Linked DNA regions of Homo sapiens. The protein of the gene in region 2 interacts with the protein of the main gene of each other region in a pairwise test. Each region holds a gene or a part of one and is shown on either strand. Other genes may lie near its edges.

The links.
Region 1: the proteins of NCK1 (region 2) and FYB1 interact in binary tests that used the Homo sapiens proteins (3 or more experiments, as listed by UniProt).
Region 3: the proteins of NCK1 (region 2) and DLGAP1 interact in binary tests that used the Homo sapiens proteins (3 or more experiments, as listed by UniProt).
Region 4: the proteins of NCK1 (region 2) and SLC24A1 interact in binary tests that used the Homo sapiens proteins (3 or more experiments, as listed by UniProt).
Region 5: the proteins of NCK1 (region 2) and STK38 interact in binary tests that used the Homo sapiens proteins (3 or more experiments, as listed by UniProt).
Region 6: the proteins of NCK1 (region 2) and NHSL3 interact in binary tests that used the Homo sapiens proteins (3 or more experiments, as listed by UniProt).
Region 7: the proteins of NCK1 (region 2) and TRAIP interact in binary tests that used the Homo sapiens proteins (3 or more experiments, as listed by UniProt).

Annotation. Positions count from the first base shown.
Region 1 is NC_000005.10:39,108,158-39,111,563, forward strand, and holds part of FYB1 (FYN-binding protein 1), read right to left. Parts: intron 2,233-3,406; coding exon 2,199-2,232; intron 106-2,198; coding exon 74-105; intron 1-73. UniProt on the Homo sapiens protein: Acts as an adapter protein of the FYN and LCP2 signaling cascades in T-cells. May play a role in linking T-cell signaling to remodeling of the actin cytoskeleton. Modulates the expression of IL2. Involved in platelet activation.
Region 2 is NC_000003.12:136,865,208-136,868,707, reverse strand, and holds part of NCK1 (SH2/SH3 adapter protein NCK1), read right to left. Parts: intron 1-3,500. UniProt on the Homo sapiens protein: Adapter protein which associates with tyrosine-phosphorylated growth factor receptors, such as KDR and PDGFRB, or their cellular substrates. Maintains low levels of EIF2S1 phosphorylation by promoting its dephosphorylation by PP1.
Region 3 is NC_000018.10:3,497,920-3,500,307, reverse strand, and holds part of DLGAP1 (disks large-associated protein 1), read left to right. Parts: intron 1-913; coding exon 914-1,123; 3' UTR 1,124-2,388. UniProt on the Homo sapiens protein: Part of the postsynaptic scaffold in neuronal cells.
Region 4 is NC_000015.10:65,628,438-65,631,937, reverse strand, and holds part of SLC24A1 (sodium/potassium/calcium exchanger 1), read right to left. Parts: intron 1-3,500. UniProt on the Homo sapiens protein: Calcium, potassium:sodium antiporter that transports 1 Ca(2+) and 1 K(+) in exchange for 4 Na(+). Critical component of the visual transduction cascade, controlling the calcium concentration of outer segments during light and darkness.
Region 5 is NC_000006.12:36,523,480-36,526,979, forward strand, and holds part of STK38 (serine/threonine-protein kinase 38), read right to left. Parts: intron 2,164-3,500; coding exon 2,112-2,163; intron 985-2,111; coding exon 862-984; intron 1-861. UniProt on the Homo sapiens protein: Serine/threonine-protein kinase that acts as a negative regulator of MAP3K1/2 signaling. Converts MAP3K2 from its phosphorylated form to its non-phosphorylated form and inhibits autophosphorylation of MAP3K2.
Region 6 is NC_000001.11:32,765,830-32,769,329, reverse strand, and holds part of NHSL3 (NHS-like protein 3), read right to left. Parts: intron 1,544-3,500; coding exon 1,373-1,543; intron 1,269-1,372; coding exon 1,213-1,268; intron 679-1,212; coding exon 555-678; intron 1-554. UniProt on the Homo sapiens protein: Able to directly activate the TNF-NFkappaB signaling pathway.
Region 7 is NC_000003.12:49,828,101-49,830,332, forward strand, and holds the end of TRAIP (E3 ubiquitin-protein ligase TRAIP), read right to left. Parts: intron 1,969-2,232; coding exon 1,920-1,968; intron 1,667-1,919; coding exon 1,517-1,666; intron 1,409-1,516; coding exon 1,358-1,408; intron 1,126-1,357; coding exon 1,003-1,125; 3' UTR 501-1,002; downstream 1-500. UniProt on the Homo sapiens protein: E3 ubiquitin ligase required to protect genome stability in response to replication stress.

The DNA.
Region 1 (3,406 bases), on a different chromosome or scaffold from region 2:
GCTATTTTTAGCATTTATAAAAACAGTAAATTCACTATGACTGTTCTCTAGGGTGGTACTACATAAGACTTACCATCAGCAATATCATCATAGATCTCTCCATCACTGTAAATGTAAAAAAAAATTTTTATTTTAAAGAAACTATGTTCTTGGCATTAGAGCAATATATAGAAGAATAGAGTAACAGTATAATTTTATAAGACACAATTAAGACTTTTAAGCATAGTATGCATTTATAAGTAGAAATAAATTTGATATTCATTATCTCTTCTTTCATTGACTTAATCTAGTCCTCTGTTTCATTTTACATACAGAATAATTAAAACATGCTTCAAGAGCATAGACTATGCCTTACTCATCTTTATAAGACATGTTTGTTAACAATGTACTAAACATCATGGTACAATACTCCCATTGGGGATGTTAATTCAAAGCTGCAATGGACTTTTATGTCTGTTAATATCAGATTCATACTTTCACTTGAATTTCGAATGGTGAATTAAATACAATAATAATTGGCATAGGAAATGGTTGCATCATTTTCACATGTTTTCTAATTATAACTCATACATATAATAAAATATATAAATATTAGTTACAGAATAAGTAGCCAAGATATGATTATTATGGTGATTCTTATGTAATTTTAAAACTATTACTTATGATTATAGGCAGCATCCATAATAGTAATTTTGGTACTTTTACACATTTTAGGTTTTGCCTGGCCCTGAATCTTTGTGATATTTTCTATCCGACAAACATACTGAATCCCTTCTATGTACCAGGAGACAAAAATTTGAGTAAGAGACAAGCTTTGCTTTTAAGTACCTTATAATCAAACAGGAGATTATATAAGAAATAAAAATAGAGAGCATTATAAACATGAACATTGCCTTGAAATGTAAGATATACTTCTAAAATTCAGAAATGTAGGGTGGCTTTGTCACTTAGACCAGAACTACTCTTTGCTGTACAATCTCTGTGCTTTATCATGGAAGCAGCAGCAGGCCCTTCAAACTGCTGCCAACTATGGCAGATGCTGTGAGTTCCCTATGTCTTCTGTTTGGATCTTTTCTCTGAGATGGAGGGAGGGTTTGGCTAACGGAAATCTCATCCAAATGCGAGCAGGACAGGTTTTTCTGTCATTTATACAATAAACATTTATTAAGTATTCGCTTCAATAGGTGGTGAACCAACAATTACTTACAGAGTATGCTTTCTAAATTCTCTCAATCAGCCTGTAATAATCACTGATGGAGATGTTGTCCTATTATTTGCCACACATTCTGTCCTTAAAATTTGTATCTTTCATAGAACAAAACCTATTGAAAGTCTCTTGCCTCCCACTGTGATTAATGTGCTCAGGAGAACAAAGGTATTATGATTATTTTTCTTTGGCCTTTACTAGTTTGCCAGCAAAGCTCTTCACACTGATTTGTGTTTTTCTGATTGGTGTCAGGTTGTTGATGGGTACACAGTTTGTGACTCCTTCTGGATCTTTTCATTGTGCTAAATTCTGTAAATCTTTGCATTGGCACGTGACCTAACCTGATAATGGAGTTCGTTTCTTGCACTGGGTTACTTGGGACAGAATCTTATGTTTCAGGGGACTCCAAAGGCACACTAGTACCACACTGTGACAGACTGTGACAATGTCTTATTCATAAGAATAGAAGAATCATTGATGACTGTCTTTTTTTCTGGCATGCTTCCATAAAAGGCAACATAGTACTCTACTATGCCTAGTGTGAGTGAAGCAAAGCCCTTAATTAAGGGCTAAATTATGAACTGTTAACAGGTGATATTAGCACCTACTATGAAGTCACTAATTGGTCCCAAATTAATTCCACTCAATCAATTGCATTAGCAAGTAAAATGCAAAATATTGATGAAAAGGTTACTGGCTTTGACATGTCTTCAGTGTTTGCTGAGAGCCTAATGAATATATAAAACTATTAACTATGAGCTGTACAATTTTAAATGAGAAGGGCTCCTCGCCTATTTAAAAGAGTAGCACTTCATGGAAACCTAAACTTTATTATGGATACTAACATGTTAACGTTAGTATAGCATATTGTTTTTAAATTTATTTATGATAGTTGAGTAGGTTACATTATTTAAGTAATATTATAAATATTTTAAAAAGAAAGGCACAAAATTCTTTTCACAAGCATAGTAGTAGAAGAAAATGGGCTTACTTGTCCGCTAGGTAACTCCGAAGGACATAACCATCTACGAAGGAAAAAGGAAATAAATTGTATCAATAATACAGGTTGAAAAATCTTTAGTACTTTTTTCAGGAAATCAAAACACAAGAGAGTAATCATAGTATATTGAATAATTGTATCTATCTCTGGAAATGACCCATTTTTCTTACTTGTGTCTACTTTTGTGTCCTTCCTTTCTTCTCCTTTTCTCCCTAACTTTTCTCTTTCTCCAGTATGTCTCTTTTTTCTCCAATTTCAACCTTTCCTCCTTTCCCCTTTAAATAAAAAAGCAACTTTTTTCATTAAGCTACTGTAGGCTGTAGCACAGAGTTCAGTGTGTTACCCCCATGATCCAGTTTTAGGAAGAATTTAGTAAGCATAGATTATAAAAGTCATTTATTGGTAAGTATTTTAAATACCACCAGATCTAAGACTTACTTTCTAAAATTTTATTATATTGAGCAGAGAGAGAACTGTATTCAACTCCCCTTTCAGATCCCAGCCAGCTATTGACTACTAGGGGGACTATGCATTGTAAATAGTCTCAAACAGGTCTCTTTTACTCTGTATGGAAGAAATTCCTCTACTGTTTTGCTATTGGACAGTATCAACATTTGCATTTCATCACTCATGGAGCAAAAGCATTATTGGAAGAGCACATACTATGGATTCTATGATGCCTGGTTAAGTAGAAAATAAGCCATATTTTATGCAAGAAAGCTAAGTTTTGTTGTTGTTGTTGTGTGAGGGGCACCTTATATTTGCCTCTCATTGTGCAAATGTTTCTCAGGAAAAATAGGAACTATTTTTCTTAAGAAAATGCCTGCTGATATCTAATTAATATTACTAATCTTTGGAATTGTTAGTTTTGTGTTAGTGCCTAAAATCTGTTGTATGCTTGAGATTAGTACCATTTATTGCTTCCTCAATACAATCTCTAAATAATTTCTCTCAGTGAGTCAATCTATTGGTTTTGGTCCACTTTAGATCTAATTTTAGTTCTGAATCAAAGCAAATGTGTTACAAATTATAAGGAGAAAGCTCATAAGCAAAAATTAATAATATAAATGATAAACTTACGTAAATGTATTGATGTCATATTGCCAATGATTAAACATGAAAATATTTTTTAAAAGTTGGAATCATAAAACTGAATTTATACATTAAAATTTAAGAAAATGAACTTTCCCTTGAAGTGT
Region 2 (3,500 bases):
AAAAGACAAACTAAATTGCAGCAGTAAAACCTGTAAGAGATTCATTTTTTAGCAGATGATAGAATTCAATGGTAAACACTGGCCAGGTGCGGTGGCTCATCCCTGTAATCCCAGCACTTTGGGAGGCCAAAGCAGGCTGATTAACTGAAGTTAGGAGTTGGAGATCAGCCTGGCCAACATGGTGAAACCCTGTCTCTGCTAAAAATACAAAAATTAGCCAGGCATGGTGGCAGGCACCTGTAATTCCAGCTACTTAGGAGGCTGAGGCAGGAGAATCCCTTGAACCTGGGATGCAGAGGGTACAGTGATCCGAGATTGCCCCACTGCACTCCATCCTGAGTGACAGAGCAGGACTCCGTCTCAAGAAAAAAAAAACTCAATGGTAAACATGACAATATTATTTTTGTTAATGGTGTTAATACACCTAACAAGTATAGGGGAAAGAAACTGTATATAGACTTTATATCATTGTTTAAATAATTTACAATGTAAGGCTGGGCATGGTGGCTCATGCCTGTAATTCCAGAACTTTGGGAAGCCAAGGTGAGCGGATCACCTGAGGTCAGGAGTTTGAGACCAGCCTGGCCAACATGGTGAAACCCATCTCTACTAAAAATACAAAATTAGCCAGGTGTGGTGGCAGGTGCCTGTGATCCCAGCTCCTCAGGAGGCTGAGGCAAGAGAATTGCTTGAACCCGAGAGGCGGAGGTTGCAGTGAGCCGAGATCATGCTGCTGCACTCCAGCCAGGGCAAAAACTGCGAAACTCTGTCTCAAAAAAAAAAAAATTTACAATGTAAATATGAAGGTTCCCCTGCCCTGAAGTTTTCAATCTATGAGAAGGCATAAATACACAAAATGCAAAATAATGTGAGGCAAATAAGGCAAAATTACAAGAGATGAGAAGTAGTATGGTTTCATAAACACACAGAACTTGCGTCAGAAGATCAAGGGTTGAGTCTTTGTTCTGCCCCCATCACTAAATGTTTGAATTTTGGTGCATCTAGTCTATTTGTATTTCAGTTTCCTTATCTGTAAAACACAAGGTTGGATTCCAACATTCCAGCAATAATGCTCTATAATTCTATGATTCAAGTCCACACAACATTAAAAACCAAGGGAATACTAAAATAATAAGGGGTATGGGTTTAAAGGAAAGCAACAGACCAGGCACAGTGGCTCACCCCTATAATCCCAGCACGTTGAGAAGCCAAGGTGGGAGGATCGTTTGAGGCCAGGAATTCAAAACCAGTCTGAACAACACAGTGAGACCCTATCTCTACAAAAAAAAAAAAAAAAAAAAATTAGCCAGACATTGATGCACACCTGTAATCCTGGCCTTTGGGAGGTTCAAGTTACAATGAGGAGCTGTGATCAGGCCACTGTACTCCAGCCTGAGCAACAGAGCGAGATCCTGTCAAAAAAGAAAGAAGAAAGAAAGAAAGAGAGAGAGAGACAGACGGACGGACAGACGGATGGATGGACGGAAGGAAGGAAGGAAGGAAGGGAAAAGAAAGAAAAGAAAGAAAGAAGGAAGGAAGGAAGGAAGGAAGGAAGGAAGGAAGGAAGGAAGGAAGGAAAGAAAGAAACAAAGAAAGAAAGAAAGAAAGAAAGAAAGAAAGAAAGAAAGAAAGAAAGAAAGAAAGAAAGAAAGAAAGAAAAGCAAGCAACATAGGGAACAGGAAAAACATTTGGAAGACTGCACCAAAGGACCAAAAGCGAAAATTCAACAAATTTTACTTCATTTGCTACTTGGTAATTTAGGAGAAAAAAAAAATTTTAAAGACTAGGCAAACTGGACGGGCACAGTGGCTCACGCCTGTAATCCCAACACTTTGGGAAGCCGACGCATGTGGATCACCTGAGGTCGGGAGTTCAAGACCAGCCTGGCCAACATGGTGAAACCCCATCTCTACTAAAAATACAAAATTAGCCAGGCGTGGTGGCATGCACCTGTAATCCTAGCTACTCGGAAGACTGACACAGGAGAATCACTTGAACCAAGGAGACGGAGGTTGCAGTGAGCCAAGATGGTGCCACTGCACTCCAGCCTGGGTGACAGAGTGAGACGCCTCAAAGAAAAAAAAAAAGAAGAAAGAAAGAGGCCAGGCACAGTGGCTCACACCTGTAATCCCAGCACTTTGGCAGGCTGAGATGTGTAGATCACCTGAAGTGAGGAGTTTAAGACTGGCCTGACCAACACGGAGAAACCCCGTCTCTACTAAAAATACAAAATTAGCCAGGCATGGTGGCGCATGCCTGTAGTCCCAGCTACTAGGGAGGCTGAGGTAGGAGAATCGCTTGAACCCGGGAGGCAGAGGTTACGGGGAGCCGAGATCGCACCATTGCACTCCAGCCTGGGCAACAGAGCGAGACTCTGTCTCAAAAAAAAAAAAAGAAAGAAAGAAAGAAAAAGGAATGATACGAAGGTACAAAAATACAAAGAGTAAATAAGAATCAGAGATTGGTTTGGTTAGAGTGGACAGCTCCTATAAAGAAATAGTGCTGGCACTGATTAAAAAAAAAGAAAGAAATAGTGCTGGCCCCAGAAAAACAGGTTTGAGCAGACTGTTATTAGGCTATGAATTCTGAACTATACTCTGAAGATAACAGAGAGTTATCACTGGTTTCCGAAAAGTGAAGGATGTGTTTGAAGCATAATTCTAAGATTTAGGAAGACATACTAAGTAGAGAGAAAAATCAAGCAAAAAACCCAATTAAAGGCTAGTGAGTAGTTCAAAGATAAAAATGGCTGGCAAAAATCAGCCAATATTGTTACACGCATAGAGATAAAACCAAAGTTTGTGTCTGGGTAATTGAAAGCATGGTAATGTCACCAAAACAAAGTCAGCATATGGAATCAGTTTTGAAGGGAAGACTATAAATTCTATCTTCATTAGAGTTTAAGGTGAGGATCAGCCAGACATAAAGTTTCCTTAAATCTTTAAATGTCATATTTAGCCTTGTTGTCTTCCTAACATCACAGTATTTATAGAGAATTTGTTAACTGCTCAGTGATTTCAAAAGTTCCCTTCAATTTTACTTATTAATGAAATAATCATTTAATTTTCTAGTGCAGATAAAGAACATTTGGTATTTTTCTATATTATAAAGGTAAATTCTAAAAATTATTAAACCATGATTTTAAAAATGAACTGTATCTGTATTCATTAAGTCAAGTCTTCCTGACAAGTGATTTATAATAATCACATCAAATATACCTTCAGCTTTGAAAAACACATGGTGAAAAAGTAAAATAAGACAAAGTAAAAGTACAAAGCAATGAAAATGTAAAACTCTAGAAAATTTTTGAAAAATGAATATAGGCCAGCCACGGTGGCGCACACCTGTAATCTCAGCACTTTGGGAGGCGGAGGTGGGCAGATTGCTTGAGGTCAGGAGTTCGAGACCAGCCTTGCCAACATGGTGAAACTCCGTCTCTACTAAAAATACAGGCCGGGCGTGGTGGCTCATGCCTGTAATCCCAGCACTTTGGGAGGCC
Region 3 (2,388 bases), on a different chromosome or scaffold from region 2:
TGGTCTAGACGCCATTCTTTCCTGCTGCATTTTTTTTAATGCCAAAGAGATGACTGTCTTTTGTTTTTGCAGTGGCATTGAAAATATCCGCCCATTTCATAGTTTGCTGCTGATAAGAGGAATGACCTCTTTCATCCTGTGTCAACTTTTCATGGCACAGTTTCTGCCCCTGTGATTGGAATTGCTTCCTGGGCCACCACAGTTATCCCGAGGCCCCTAGTCAGAGTCACCTTGGAACTGACTTAATTAACTCTCGAGTGTAGGAAATATCAATGGCCTCCCTCTCCCGTGACCCTGTATATTGTATATTGCTTGTGTGTTCGTGTGTGGTGTGCAAAAGGGTCTAACCTGGTGTAGCACCAACAAAGCTAAAGAACACAATCTGATATCTCTTCTTCCTCCTCTGTTTATTTAGGTTTGGTGGGAAGGGGACGGTGGGCGGGCCGGGGACAGAGCGGAGATGTTTTTAAGCTCTGAACCAAGCTTGCACCCGGTGACTTGCATCCTTAGAGGGGATGCAGGGGTTCTAAGATGCTGCTGCAGCCGCTGCTTCCTGGCCCATCTCTGGCACCAGGAGGAGTCTGGAGTCTCCAGAGAGAACCGCACTCAATGTGCTGGGAGCCGCAGGCTTTCCGCAGGGGGCCTTTAAAATACCCACTTCCTTCCCTTGGAGAGACCTAGTTCTGCAACCCAGCCTTACCCTGGGCCTTAAGCTTACCGGGATTTTTTTTTTTCTGCATCTTTTGAATGCCCAAGCCAGAATAATGAAGAAAAAAGTAGATATGCAGTGTGCAGATCAGAACTAACCACCCCTAGGTAAAAAACTGTGTGTTCTAACTACTGACCTATCCCAGTTTTTCCCAAGCTTGTCCTGAGAAGCTGTGTAATGTCCTGAACCTTCTGCTTTGATCAGGAGAGAAGGGCCCCTCCTCCAGTGCCAAAGAAGCCGGCGAAGGGCCCCGCGCCGCTGATCCGGGAGCGCTCGCTGGAGAGCTCGCAGCGCCAGGAGGCCCGCAAGCGCCTGATGGCCGCCAAGCGCGCCGCGTCCGTCCGCCAGAACTCGGCCACCGAGAGCGCCGAGAGCATCGAGATCTACATCCCCGAGGCGCAGACCCGGCTCTGAGCGCCCCGCAGCCCGGCCGCCGCCGCCAAGCATCTGTCCCCTCCTCCCCCGGCCGCTCCTCTGCCGGCTGCCTCTCCCCCTCCGAGCCCGTCCGCTCCCGAGCTCGGTGACTTCCACTGTCGCGGTGTAGTTGTCCACCTCGCAGGAGCCGCCCCCCGGGCCCCCCTCAGCCCCCCACTTCCCGTACCCGTTTGCCCATCTCCTTCTTCACCGAGCTTCGCCCCCTGTCCTGATGCCGTCGCCCTGCCTCATACTGAGATCCAACCCTTTATTTTCTGGGCAAAGCCAAACCCACCTGTGTAGAAGTGATGCCTTTAGGTCACCCGCCGTCCTCAGTTCTCTCGAGCTAGTCTGTTCAGCAATATAAAACCATAGGGTATTTCAGAAATCCAGTATCACAGGGTGATCCTTTGGGACTTACCGTCTTCCACGTGAAAGAAACTAGGCCTCCGATTCCCTTTATTTCCCCTAAATGGTTATTCTTTTAAAAAAGCAGATGGAGCACTTTATTCCCAACCTCAGAAATCACACCATCTCACTGGAATCCATGAGGGACACAGAGAGAGGGGACCAAGCCTGGCCTGGGGGTGGGGGACCTGGATGTGTAGCAAGGATGGGAGAAGCGAAATCTGCAGGTGCTGGGGGCACCTGCACACTCACAGCTGCACAAACTGCCTCACTGTTACTTCATCAATCACAGCTTCAAATGTCTCAATCAGCAGAAGATTGTAAATTCGATCTTTCAGGGAAATTAATCTATTCTGAAAGGCAATAACATGAAGCAAGGCAAAGGAGGCACTGATGGTTTAGTATACTACATAAGGGATTTTTTTGTTCTATTATTAAGAAAATCTAGACCTGAAATGTTTTCTCAACTCTTATTGTACTGTGTATATTTATATTGTTGTCGTGGCGGCTGTTTTTAAAGGGAAAGTGTTGGTTCTATTAATTTGTTAAGTGTCCATCCAGGTGGGCCTACCTGATTCCACATATATAAGTACATATCTGCTTATAAAGCGCTGTAAATGGCAGCAAGGCTGTTTTTGGAGAAGAGTTTGGGTTTTCCTACCATCCCTTTGAATGCTACACATCCGTCTATTTTAACCCAAGTAGTTCGTATTTCAGATATATTTTCTCCTTTCATCTCCTCTCACTACTGCAGAGTCCAGTAATACCTAGCATAGGATTCTGTCCTGTGTCAAATGGCTAAAATAAATTTTTGCCCCAATAGACATGCTGCCTCATTCAAAAGAGCTGCCGCTGTC
Region 4 (3,500 bases), on a different chromosome or scaffold from region 2:
ATCACTTGAACCTGGGACGCGGAGGTTGCAGTGAGCTGAGATCGCGCCACTGCACTCCAGCCTAGCAACAGAGCGAGACTCTGTCTCAAAAATAAAAATAAAATAAAATCCAAACTCTGTATCTGATGCACAGGGCCCTGCATGGAGTATTAGGCTGGTACAAAAGTAATCGCGGTTTTTGCCATTAAAAGCGAAACTAATGACAAAAACCACAATTACTTTTGCACCAAACTAATAGCTCCCACCCTCTTCTCCAGTGGTATTCTGTACCCCTCTCCCTATTACTCACTAACCACACTGGCCTTTATTCTTTCCTCTAATGTGCCAAGCTCTCTTTTCCAGCTCTGAGCTTTTGCAAATGCTGTTCCCTCTTCCAGGAATTCTTGTCACTGGCTATGGGGTGGTTTCCCTTCTCATTCTGCAGATCTCTACTTGAAATTCTCCTCCAAGAGACCTCCTACACTCTCCCTCACTAAAGGGGGCCCACTATTATTTACAATCACTCTCTATCACATGCCCTGTTTATTTCCTTTATAGTACTTGTCATATGCTGAAATTAACATCTTAGTTTATTTTACTTGTTTTTCATCCATATGTCCACTCCCCCACACTAAAAAAAATTCTGTTGGTTGCATATTTCCAATTAATTCAGGTGGCAGAGCATCTAGAAATTATGCTGTTCTTTGTAGAACACCATGAATATCTAATTTCATATTGAATCCCATCATATGCACTAGGAGAAAATATTACTGGGTTGTATGAATGCATGTAAAATCTCAACTACAAGCTTACACATATCCATGAAAACAACAAACTGTTAAACTAGATGTGATCAGATGTTTGAGTTTTTCTGTTAATATTTGTTTATTTCTCATGCATTCATTTTGTCATCTGCTGGCACCCACTAGCAGGTGAACATTGAAAGCTTTTTTTTTTTAATATTGTGGTTAGGTTTTAGTTTTGTTTTGAGACAGAGTCTTGCTCTGTTGCCCAGGCCGGAGTGCAGTGGCATGATGTCAGCTCACTGCAACCTCCGCCTGCTGGGTTCCAGCAATTCTCCTGCCTCAGCCTCCCGAGAAACTGCAATTACAGATGCGTGCCACCACGCCTGGCAAATTTTTGTATTTTTAGTAGAGATGAGGATTCACCATGTTGGCCAGGCTGATCTTGAACTCCTGACCTCAAGTGATCCACCCACCTCGGCCTCCCAAAGTGCTGGGATTACAGGCGTGAGCCACCGCACCTGGCCAAAAGATTAAGAAAATTTTATGAAGAGAAACCCTAAAATTGAGCATTCAACTCTTACCATCTTTTCCTGACAATTAGAGGGAAACTGATTATTATTCAAAGAGTCGAAGAAGGGAACCCCTCAGCCCAGGCTACAGTGGGCCCTTTGGCAGCACAGTGAGTTCCCTGGAGTCTAGTGTAGGCAGGACCCACAGAGGCAGGGGGGGTTCTCGGCGGCTGCTTCCTGCACACAGCCCCTTGCCTCCAAAGCAGGTAGCTGGCTCTATAGGTCACTGATAGAAGCCCTTAGGATAAATGCCAACCCTGATAAGAAAAGGGAGGACCAGCCCCTAAACAGGCAGCAGGTTTGTCTGCTTGAGGTCTTGTTGATTGGTTTAATTTTTAAAATCCTGCCAGGGACCAGGCGTGGTGGTGGCTCACACCTGTAATCCCAGCACTTTGGGAGGTCAAGGTGAGAGGATTGCTTGAAGCCAGGAGTTTGAGACCAGCCTGAGTAACATAGTGAGACACACCTCCATATCCTCCCCCTCCCCACCTTCTCTACAAAAAGTTTTTTAAATTAGCTGGGTGTGGTGGCATGCACATGTAGTCCCAACTACTCAGGAGGCTGAGGAGGGAGACTGCCTGAGTCTGGGAGGTCAAGGCTGTAGTGAGTCGTGCTTGAGCCACTGCACTCCAGCCTGGGTGACAGGGCAATACCTCATCTCAAAAATAAATAAAAAAGTCCTTCCAGGATGAAAATAGCCCCCAGTGCATTTAGGAGAGAATAGCAGACTTTTCCCCAGGAGTATTCTCGAGGGAAGAGTGTGGGTACGGAGCTTCCAAAGGAGCCCCAACTAGGCTCTTTTCTCTGCTTTGCATCCCTTTTTGCCATTGGCTTTCCACAGGACTGTCTTGCTAATCATACACCTCATGTAGATGGCTGGTGCTTCCTGGCTAATCTAGTCAAGTATAAAGAAGGGCCCCTGCTGTCCTTCAAATACCAATAATGCTTTTCAGCCAGCCTAGCGCCTCTGCTTTGCTGTCTGTTGGCTTTCTGTGACTATGCATGGTCAAGGCAGGTCAGAGATTTATCATTTTTGGCCAGAACAAATACACTGAGAGCTTCAAAACCAAGTATACTTGAAAACTAAGTTTCAGAGAGACAGCCTGTGTTCAGAGTTAGACTGTGTTGATAACTATGCAAACATTTACCATTTCCTTACTGGGGTCATAAAAGGCATCCTCAAACCAATATATGTCAATCTGACGATGTTGTCCAAAATATTTTTAGCTTTGAATTTTTTTCAGCCAGTATCAAAAGTGAGACTCTAAAATACTTACTATATGTCTATGTCAAATACTAAGTCCTTTATTTTTTTCTGGAAATATTCTTAAGTAAATTCTGATTAGAATCACTCCTAAAACACCATTATCCTGATTCTAGATACTCAGGGCAGAATAAACGGTAAAGTGAAAGATGCTCCAGCTCAGAAACTCAACAGCTATCAGGTGGGTGAATATCCAGTAATAAAATGGATTGTTCTCCGCTGATTGTATGTTTCCAAGTTGCTCAGGAAGAAGAATACCTGCAAGTATGTTGCTCTTACTAAAATACCACGTGGCCATTCCAATTAGTTTATTTATTATCTGTAGCTGCTTTCACACTACAAGGACAGAGTTCAGTAGCTTTGACAGAGACTATATGGTTTGCAAATCCTAAAATATTTACTGTCTGGCCCTTTACCGAAAAAGTTTGCCAACTTCTACATAGCTCATCCATTCACTTTACAGACGAGCAACCTAAGTCCTGTTTGAAAAGCAAAGTGGCTTTGTAGCACTTTGCACAGGGTTCACTTCATTGCAGTTAATTTTCTCTAGGCTTGTCCCTTCTACTGGATACAATCTTTTTATTTCCCACAGTGGCTTTCATTTAACTTAATAATAATGGTTTGTTGTATTGCATTGACTTGCCCAGGGAAACAGGAATAGTCAGCAATGGAACCTGGCTTAAAACCCAGATATCGTGATTCATGATCAATGGTAAGGATCACCAAGTAGCTGTGTAACTTTGGCTGAGTAATTATCCTCTCTGAGCTTCAGTTTCCTCACCTGCAAGATGAAGGTAATCCATTCCTTGTATGGTTTTATGAGAAATGTTAAGACAATGTATGTATGGAATAGGCTCTCCGTAAGCATGGATTCTCAACCCCTGACTCCTTTGTCTCACTAAACTAGAGTTCTGGAACTTTTAGGATTACCTGAGGAAACTG
Region 5 (3,500 bases), on a different chromosome or scaffold from region 2:
TCGAACTCCTGACCTTGTGATCCGCCCGCCTTGGCCTCCCAAAGTGCTGAGATTACAGGAGTGAGCCACCGTGCCTGGCCCCGGGGTACCAGGTTTTAATAATATACTGCTCCTTTTATACTTGCAATTATTGCGTCAGTAGGTCATCCAGTTTGGGCATTTTTCATTAACAGGAATGACCTTGCATGGGCTCTTTCAAGCTCTCCCCAACAGATTGCTCTTGTGCCCAAGCAGGATCATTTCCAAGAATTGCGGGGACAAAGTCGCAAATGCTTTCAACTCTCCACCACTACCTATATAACTCCTTTCTGTAAATCCTCCCTCCTAGGGTCATCTTTTTAGAGCTGTATCAATCTGGTGGGGAGAAATAAAGGGTGGAGATACACTATTAGTTTCCTTCTCGAGAGGCAGTGCAGTACTGGGAAAAGCAAGCTCTTTGAGTTCAGGAAGTAGAGCCCAACTTTTGGTCCCAGTACTCAATGGCTGTGTGATAACAAGAGACATTATATATACCTTTAGAGTCTTAATTTCACCATCTATAAAATGGGTTACTGTCCTGATTATGGGAAAAAAGCAGCCTGTAAATAATAAATGTTGATTTCCTTCTACCTTTCAACTCTCCCCCTAAGTCAATATTTAAACACCAACACCATCTCTGGCAAAACAGAGAACAGAGATCTGGGACTGCGGAGAGAAGAAAAAGAGAAAGCAGACAGACAAAGCAATTAGGATGTGGGGCTGGCATGCCTGACTCATTTAATTCCATATATTTGTTATATCAACAATCATGACTTAATGGTATGTTAGAAGCTTTGAAGTTTTGCAATATTTTTCTACTTGACAAGTAGCTGTGATTTTTACCTCACCAAATGCTCCTCTGCCTATTACTTTTAAGGACTCAAAATCTTCCAATCCAAGTCTTGTTCTCTTCAAACGAAGAAACTCTGTTTCCTTCCGAGCATGTGCTGATCTCCGGAGTCGTTTCTAATATTTAAATAAAAAAGGGAGGAGACGGGAAGGAACTGAAATTCTGAAACTCTGTAACAAGTCATGTTTGTGACTTACCCAGCTAGAAAACAGGTCCAAGTGGACTAAGGATAATCTTTTCACATATGAAATCACCCCAGAAGGATCCTTAAGAGGTCACTTCTCCCTTTCCTGGCATTTAGACACAACATCCAAGCCACACTGAACAGATGGGTGCCTCCTCTGGGAACTCTGACTAACCTACTTCAGCAATCCACTATCCTAACATTTTTGGTGAAGGGAGGGATAAATAATCAACAATATTTTCCTTTATCCTGTTTAATATAAATTAAAAATGTGTTCTTATCTTTCCCTCTGGCTTAAACACTGTATACTCTAACTTTCTGTTATTTCTACAAGTATTGGGTATTTTTCACCACCGTCCTGGGTTCTGCAAGCCAGTCCTATTTTTGAAGGCATTTCCACTACCATTTCAGTTCCTTGCACAGTCCCTTGTTAACTATATTTTCTCCTACTGTATCTGTGGGCACTGGGTGGAAGGGCTGATTTGAGATGGATATTTTGCCTTAATAAAGATTTCAGGAACATGACACACCGGGGCCTGTCGGGGCATGGGGGGAAAGGGAGGGAGAGCATTAGGACAAATACCTCATGCATGCGGAGCTTAAAACCTAGATGACAGGTTGATAGGTGCAGCAAACCACTATGGCACATATATACCTATGTAATAAACCTGCATGTTCAGCACACGTATGTATCCCAGAAAAAGTAAAATAAATAAATATTTCAAAAATTTGCCCTACTCCTACGGAGACTTTTCAGTGAATTCTATAAAAATGCTACAACTTGCTCTTTTAAAATTTAATTTGATTTCATCCCTGCTTTCTCTTGGAATTCTAAATCTAGTTTACTATAACTGCATCTAGAGAAGCCTTCCTCTCCTAGGTACTTAATAATTAATCTGTCCCTCTGAATTAACACCCAAATCCGGAAGCACACTACCCCTCAAGTTCCTCTGTTATTGAGCCAAAACCCTTCTCATGTGTACCAAGGCTAACAACTCACTGGACAAGATACAACCTGCCACGCTGGGTTTTAAGGAAAACATTGCCAATATTAATTACCTCCTCATCTTTTAGGCCTTCTTCTTCCATCACCTTTTCTAACTTCTTTTGTCTAAAACAAACAAAAACAAAAGACATGAAATCACATCTGAATGATAACTTTCTGAAAATTCTGTAACTTAATACTGTAGTAGATTTTTAAAAATGACACAAACAGGTAAATCTCAAAATGTCTCATTAAAACAAAAAAAATTAAGTTACTAAGACAAGTAAAAAGATTTCCATCCTTTGTTAGGCCTACTTTTTTTTGGCGGGGGGAGGGGGGCAGGTTGCGAGGAGAGGAGACAGAGTTTTGTTCTGTCACCCAGGCTAGAATGCAGTGGCGCAATCTCAGCTCACTGAAATCTCCACCTCACAGGCTCAAGCAATCCCACCTCAGCCTCCCAAGTAGCTAGGACTACAGGCGCGTGCCACCATACCTGGCTAATTTTTAAATTTTTTGTAGAAATGAGGTCTCATTATATTGCCCAGGCTGGTCTCAAACTCCAGCCTGACCTTCCAAAGTGTTGCGATTACAGGTGTGAGCCACCATGCCCCGCCCTTAGGTCTACATTTTTTAAAAGACTGTCTAAGATGTTAATGCAACAAAGACTCTTGTTTCAAAAAAATGTCCTCTCTTGGTTTTGGGTGTTTTTTTTTTTTTTTTTTTCCAGTTATTTCCTCCTTACCAAACCACAAAACAGCTGGTATTTGATAAACTCTTATATCATGCTGTTTCTTTCCCTCTCTCTGACTGAAGTCTACTTCCTTTATTTCTGCATCTTCCTCCTCTTCCCTGCCATGAGGAAAGGGTAACAAACAACAAAGTTAAAAGCAGAATTTGGAAATTTAAGGGGAAAAAGTGATCAAAAAGGTGACTGGCACCACTATCAAAACTCCATATATCAGGCTGGGTGTGGTAGCTCACGCCTGTGATCCCAGCACTTTGGGAGGTGAGGCAGATGGGTCACTTGAGGTCAGGAGTCCAAGACCAGCCTGGCCAACATGGTGAAACCCCATCTCTACTAAAAATATAAAAATTAGGCCAGGTGCAGTGGCTCACGCCTGTAACCCCAACACTTTGGGAGGCCGAGGCGGGTGGATCACTTGATGTCAGGAGTTCGAGACCAGACTGGCCAACATGGTGAAACCTGGTCTGTACTAAAAATGCAAAAATTAGCCAGGCATGGTGGCATACCCTGTAATCCCAGCTACTTGGGAAGCTGAGACAGGAGAATCACTTGAACCCAGGAGGTGGAGGCTGCAGTGAGCAGAGATCACACCACTCACTGCACTCCAGCCTGGGTGACAGAGTGAGACCCTGTCTCAAAAAAAACAAAAAGGCCGGGCGTGGTGGCTCACGCCTGTAATCCCAGCACTTTGGGAGGCTGAGGAGGGTGGATCATAAAT
Region 6 (3,500 bases), on a different chromosome or scaffold from region 2:
CACACAGCTGGCACTAGTTAGTTACACCAGGCTTCCAACAGTTAAGATTTTCTAACTCTTTTTTTATTTTTTTTTTGAGATGGAGTCTCACACTGTCGACCAGGCTGGAGTGCAGTGGTGCAATCTCGGCTCACTGCAAGCTCCACCTCCTGGGTTCACGCCATTCTCCTGCCTCAGCCTCCCAAGTAGCTGGGACTACAGGCACCCGCCATCAGGCAAGGCTAATTTTTTGTATTTTTAGTAGAGACGGGGTTTCATTCACCGTGTTAGCCAGGATGGTCTCGATCTCCTGACCTCGTGACCCGCCCACCTCGACCTCCCAAAGTGCTGGGATTACAGGCGTGAGCCACCGCACCCGGCCGCCAAGATTTTCTAACTCTTAACTGCTTTATAGTTAGTGTGTATCACGAATGTGCAAGAGGACACAGGGTACTGTGTTTCCCGAATTCATTGAATCAGAGAGCCTGGTGAAACACTGGATAAGGAGGAAAAGAAGCTACAGATGCTGGGACCCAATGGAGCCCACTGTCCCTCTCCCCTGCCCATGAATCCACCTTTGCGCTGGATCATCTCCGAGCGGATGGAGAGCGCGTCCTCTGCTGTGGAGCTCTCAGCCACGTAGGATGTGGTCTGACTGCAGAAGGAGATGTTGTCTTCATCCGGCCCCGTCCGGGAGGACTATCAGGGTAGAAGGAGATCTGGGTGGGGCTGTCTCCTCAAGGCTCCCCATTGGAACTTTTTTTTGAGACAAATCCAGCTCAGGCTGGAGTGCAGTAGCGAAATCTTGGCTCACCACAACCTCCGCCTCCCAAGTTCAAGCGATTATCCTGCCTCAGCCTCTCAAGCAGCTGGGATTATAGGTACCCTCCCACCATGCCTGGCTAATTTTTGTATTTCTAGTAGAGACAGGGTTTCACCACTTTGGCCAGGCTGGTCTCAAAATCCTGACCTCAAGTGATCCGCCCACCTCAGCGTCCCAAAGTGCTGGGGTTACAGGTGTAAGCCACCTCGCCCAGCCTCCCACTCGAACTTTTGAGTCACAGATCCCCTCCAGCATCACCTAGCACTGAGCAACCCTGAACTAGCCCTCAGGGTTCATTTAGTGTAGCCCTTTGTGATAAAGAAACTGAGACCCAGAAATGTTCCAAGACATCCTTGCCAGGGGTCAAGCAGGTAGAGAAGAGTCAGGACTGAGCTGGAGGCAGGGCTCACCTGGATACTCTGGGTGTCTCCATGGTCCCAGCCACCCTTGTTCAGTTTCTGTTTCTCTGGAAGACACCAGAAGGGTCTGTTGGGTTAGGCCCCTGACCTTGACAGCTGACAGTGCAGCACTGGAGGGAGGAGAGGGGAGGGGAGTGGAGAGGAAGCTTACCTTGGTGTTGTAGGGAGCGGAGCCCCTCCTGGGCCTGAGTGTGCAGCTCTTCCAGGTGGGGGGGTCGCCCACTGGGAAAGAAGACGTTGTCCTGGTGCTCATCCACTGCAGACCCTGGCCCCTGGCCAGGCCCTACACTTAGATGTTTGTCATTCTCAGCCTTGGCAGAGCCTAGTAGGAGGGAGGAGGAAGGGAAATGAGGTAAAGGCATCTGGGCCCTGCAGGGGCACAGGTCTCACGGCAAGGGCAGTCATGGTCCCCAGACTGCACACGGCCATTGCATATACAAGCAATGCCCCCTTCCCCAGTCTGGACACATAACCCACAGTTCTGGAGTAAACACTCAACACACACAGCCCCCATATACACAAACTACACCCAAGTGTACATAAATCTGAGTACCCACACCACACAAAGGGCCCCATATAAGGCCCCACACACAGGGCACACAGGTACACAGGTCTACTGTGTACGTACACAGCACTCACAGATGTCATTCATGTATATAAACAAAGGGCATCCGAGTATAAACACACATAGGTACACACACCAAGCACACCCAGCCCGCACGTAAACACACAACACCCACAGTCCCTGCTCTGTATATACACAAACAGTAACCAAGTATACACACGACTATGTACTCACACGTCACTCAGAGCCCCACAAAAAACATCCCGAGTATACACATAGCCCATAGTAAATACATTGCTCTCGCCTCCATACCCAAAACCCCACTTCACAGGAAAACAAACCACTCTTTTCATGCCACCACTTGAACCAGGTCCAGGAAGAAGATATCACGGGAAATCAGGAAGGAGAGACAGCTGGCATGAGTTACAACCATATTCCCAGAAAATCCTAGGGGGGATGCAGACCAAGGAGATAGCCTCCTGGGTCCCCTACTCACCCATGTGGCTGCCCCTTAGTGGAAGGATGGGCAGGGGAGGGGAGAAGAAAGACCCAGGCCCCTCCACCCGCCCAAGGGAGCTCCAGTCTCTCTTGGGGAAATAGTCCCAGGTATCCCCCTCTCCTGGAGGCCCTGGCCCTGGCCCTGGCCCCTGTTGCAGAGGAGCCAGGGATCCATTACAAAGGATCCTGTTACAAGCCCCGCCTGTGGAGGGGCTGGCCATCTAATCCTGGGGATGGGGGGCTGTGTCAGCACTTTGCAGCCCCAGCCCCCCCTTTAAATGAAACCCACAACATAAGCAAAAGCGCTGGAAGGGTCATGTGACCTTGGTAACACCTTATAAAGGGACGGGAACAAAACAAGCCCTTTAAAGGGCCATGCTCCAGGAGCAGGGTCTTCAGTTCAGAAACCTGCCTTTCCTCCTCCCTCAGCCCATTCGTCAACAGCCAGAGCTCCTGCCCTAGGGAGTCTGCAGGAATCCCACAGGTCAGAGCTAGGAGGCCCCCAACAGATCCAACCAGACCAGTGCCCGAGATCCCCAGATTTTACAAGTGGGGAAACGGTTCAAAGGGGCAAGGCCTTGCCTAAGGTCACCCAGCAGTAGGAGTCAGACTGACCCTGGACTCAACTCCAGGTTCCCAGAGGGGACTCCCGGATCACACTCAGAGTAGGGGCCCCCAACCCTCAAAAGTCCAATAAACTCTTGTCCCTATGTCTTAATCCAGGTCTGAAAGCCCAATTCCTAGGAGAAGGAAGGAGGAACAGGCCCCTCCCTCCAAAACTTCTCCATTCCCAGGCCTCTAAACAGGATTTCACTGAGCAGGCTTCCCAACTTCCAGTGGTACTACTCTCCTCTCTTCTGGGCCGCCCACGTCCCATCCTCCCCGGCACACTAGGAAAGGCTAGTACATCTTGACTGGGAGGCTGTACCCAGTAAAGTGTGGGTACCCCGGCAGGGAGGCAAGTCTCACGGGAGGGCTGCAGGCTTCAAGGTCAGAGACACCTGGATCCATCCTCCCAACCCACAAGCAGGGCCCAGACAAAGGCAGCAACAAAGCGGCTGGACAAAAGCACAGCCGGATGGGAGATTCTGGCCTCATTATCAGCCCCCAGCCCCACCCCATTACTTTTGCCCAGCCTTGATTCCTCATTCTACATAAGGGTCTGGGAAAGGGAGGCATCGAGCATCCCTCCCCTCCCCCCAAGCCACACCCACTC
Region 7 (2,232 bases), about 87 Mb from region 2:
GATCACCTGAGCCTGGGAGGTTGAGGCTGCAGTGAACTGTGATTGTGCCACTGCACTCCAGCCTGGGAGACAGAGGGAGACCCTGTTGCAAAAAGAAAAAAAAAAAAAAGAAAGAAAGAAAAAGAAAGAAAAGAAAGAAAGTGCCTTTGCAGCCAAAAGTCAAAAGCTAGCAATTTGGCTGGTAGCGTTTAAACGTGGGTAGGAACGGAAGGTAGTGGTCGCTGGTTATTTGCTGTGAGTACACTGTATAGATAGATTTCCATTTACTCGTTCACTTTCCTACTTATGGCCTTTAGGCTGTGCCCAGGTTAGAGACTGTGAGAAAAGCTGCAGTGATCTCATTCTTTCTAGAGTCTTCCTGTGCCCCATGAGAAGGCATATGCCTAGGGAAGGAACTGCTGGATCTGAGGCTTGGCGATGTTCCTGCTTTAGAAAGTCATGCCAAACAGTTTTCTAAAGTGTTGGTGCAAATTTACACTCTCAGAACCAGGAAGAAGAGATTGTTTTTTTTTTTTAATTTTATTTTACATGAAAATCTTCCATCCTCTCCATACATCCCATGCTATCCTCCATTCCCCACCCTGCTTGGCCCAGGCTATGCCTAGAAGCAAGTCAAAGGCAGGTAGAAGCTTGGGCTGAGGCTGCCTGAGATGCCTCAAGCACTCTGGTCCACAGAGACAGTCAACAAGTGACCGTGGTCTCCAGGCCCAGAAAGAGTCTGACCACATCTGATCATGGCTATAAACAGGAGCCTGGCAACAGGAGCAGGACCTGCTGACAGGATCAGTGGGCTGGTCATGTCAGCTCCCAGTCGTAGGAGTGGGGCAGGGTGAGGGCAGGAAGAGCAGTCTCTGGGTGCCACACTCACCCTCACCTGTTTGTCTGCCCTTACACCTCAGGCTGGTCCCGAAAGTGGGGCTCTGTCCACAAAACCCCTGCCTGGACAGTCCTTGACCTACAAGTTGCAGGCATGTGTCTGGCCATTGGTCAGACTCACTGTTCTCACGACCACAGGAAGGTGTCCAGCTTGGCCTGGAAGAGAGAAGGCACTGTCTTCACCCTCACCCTCTGCTTAACCTTGGTCTTGGGCTTAACAGGCAATGGGCGGATCATGACTGTGTCAGTCTGGAGGAGCTGTCAAGGAAGAGGCATGGAGAAAGGACTGCAATGCAGGGCGAGAAAGGACTGCAATGCAGGGCAAGAAAGGCTCAGAGCCGGGGGTGGGCGGCGCTGATACACAGAATGAGGCCCAGCACTGCACACCTGAGGCTGTTGGCACTGGCAGGCTGGGGGTATAGGTGAGGCATAGTATGGGCTCCACAGTTCAGCTCAGCTCAACATCACAGGAAAAGGATACAGGCTGGATGAATTTTGTCCGGCCACCGAGCCCATCGAAGCCTGTCCTTACCTAGGGTGGAAGGAAGAGATGAGTGGGCCAGGCTAATGGGCTGGGGGGCTGGCCACCCATTTCTACCCAAGAGGGCTGGCTCCTGCCACTGTGGGAAGCCACACTCACCACATCTTTGCTGCAAGAGGACTCTGACCTGGGCCTCTTGGGCTGTTTCTGGCCTAGGATGGCATTCCGGACAAAAATAGGGAAGGCACCAACCAGTTCCTCATCTGGCTCTCCTGCACAGCTCTGGCCACCCAGTGAGAGCTGGGACTCCTGCAGGGAAGACCCCAGGGCCAGACTTGATGAGCTGGATGTCAGCAAAGGAGGGAGGGTAGTGGTGGTGGAACAAGATCAGGATCTCTGATGCCTCACTAGGAGGCAGGAGGGATAATGAGTAGAATCCCAAGGGTGGCTCCGAAGTACCTCAGTCCTGGACCAGGAGTGACAAGGCTCTGGCAAGACCGTGCCCTCCCAAAAGTCCAGTCCTGCCAAAGGTTAGACTGTGCTTCTTCTAGAAAGCTCTTACCTTCCTGGGGCCTTTGCATATCTTCTTGGGGACATCCTGAATTGGGGAGCTACAAGAATGAGAGAGAAGGCAAGGGGTAGGTAAGCAAGACATGGGGGCAGGTGAACCAGGCTCAGCACACGCCCCTTGGGGAGTTACCATGTGGCACTGCTGCTGCCATGCCTGCATTCTGGGCAAGGCACCTCAGTGATCCCACCCCAAGTGCAGGTCTGTTAACAGCTGGACAGCCACAGCCAGTAGGGTGGCAGAGACAGGGATGACTGGGGATGACTGGACCATGTCCCAATCCTGTGGCTTCCACTCAAGGCCAAAT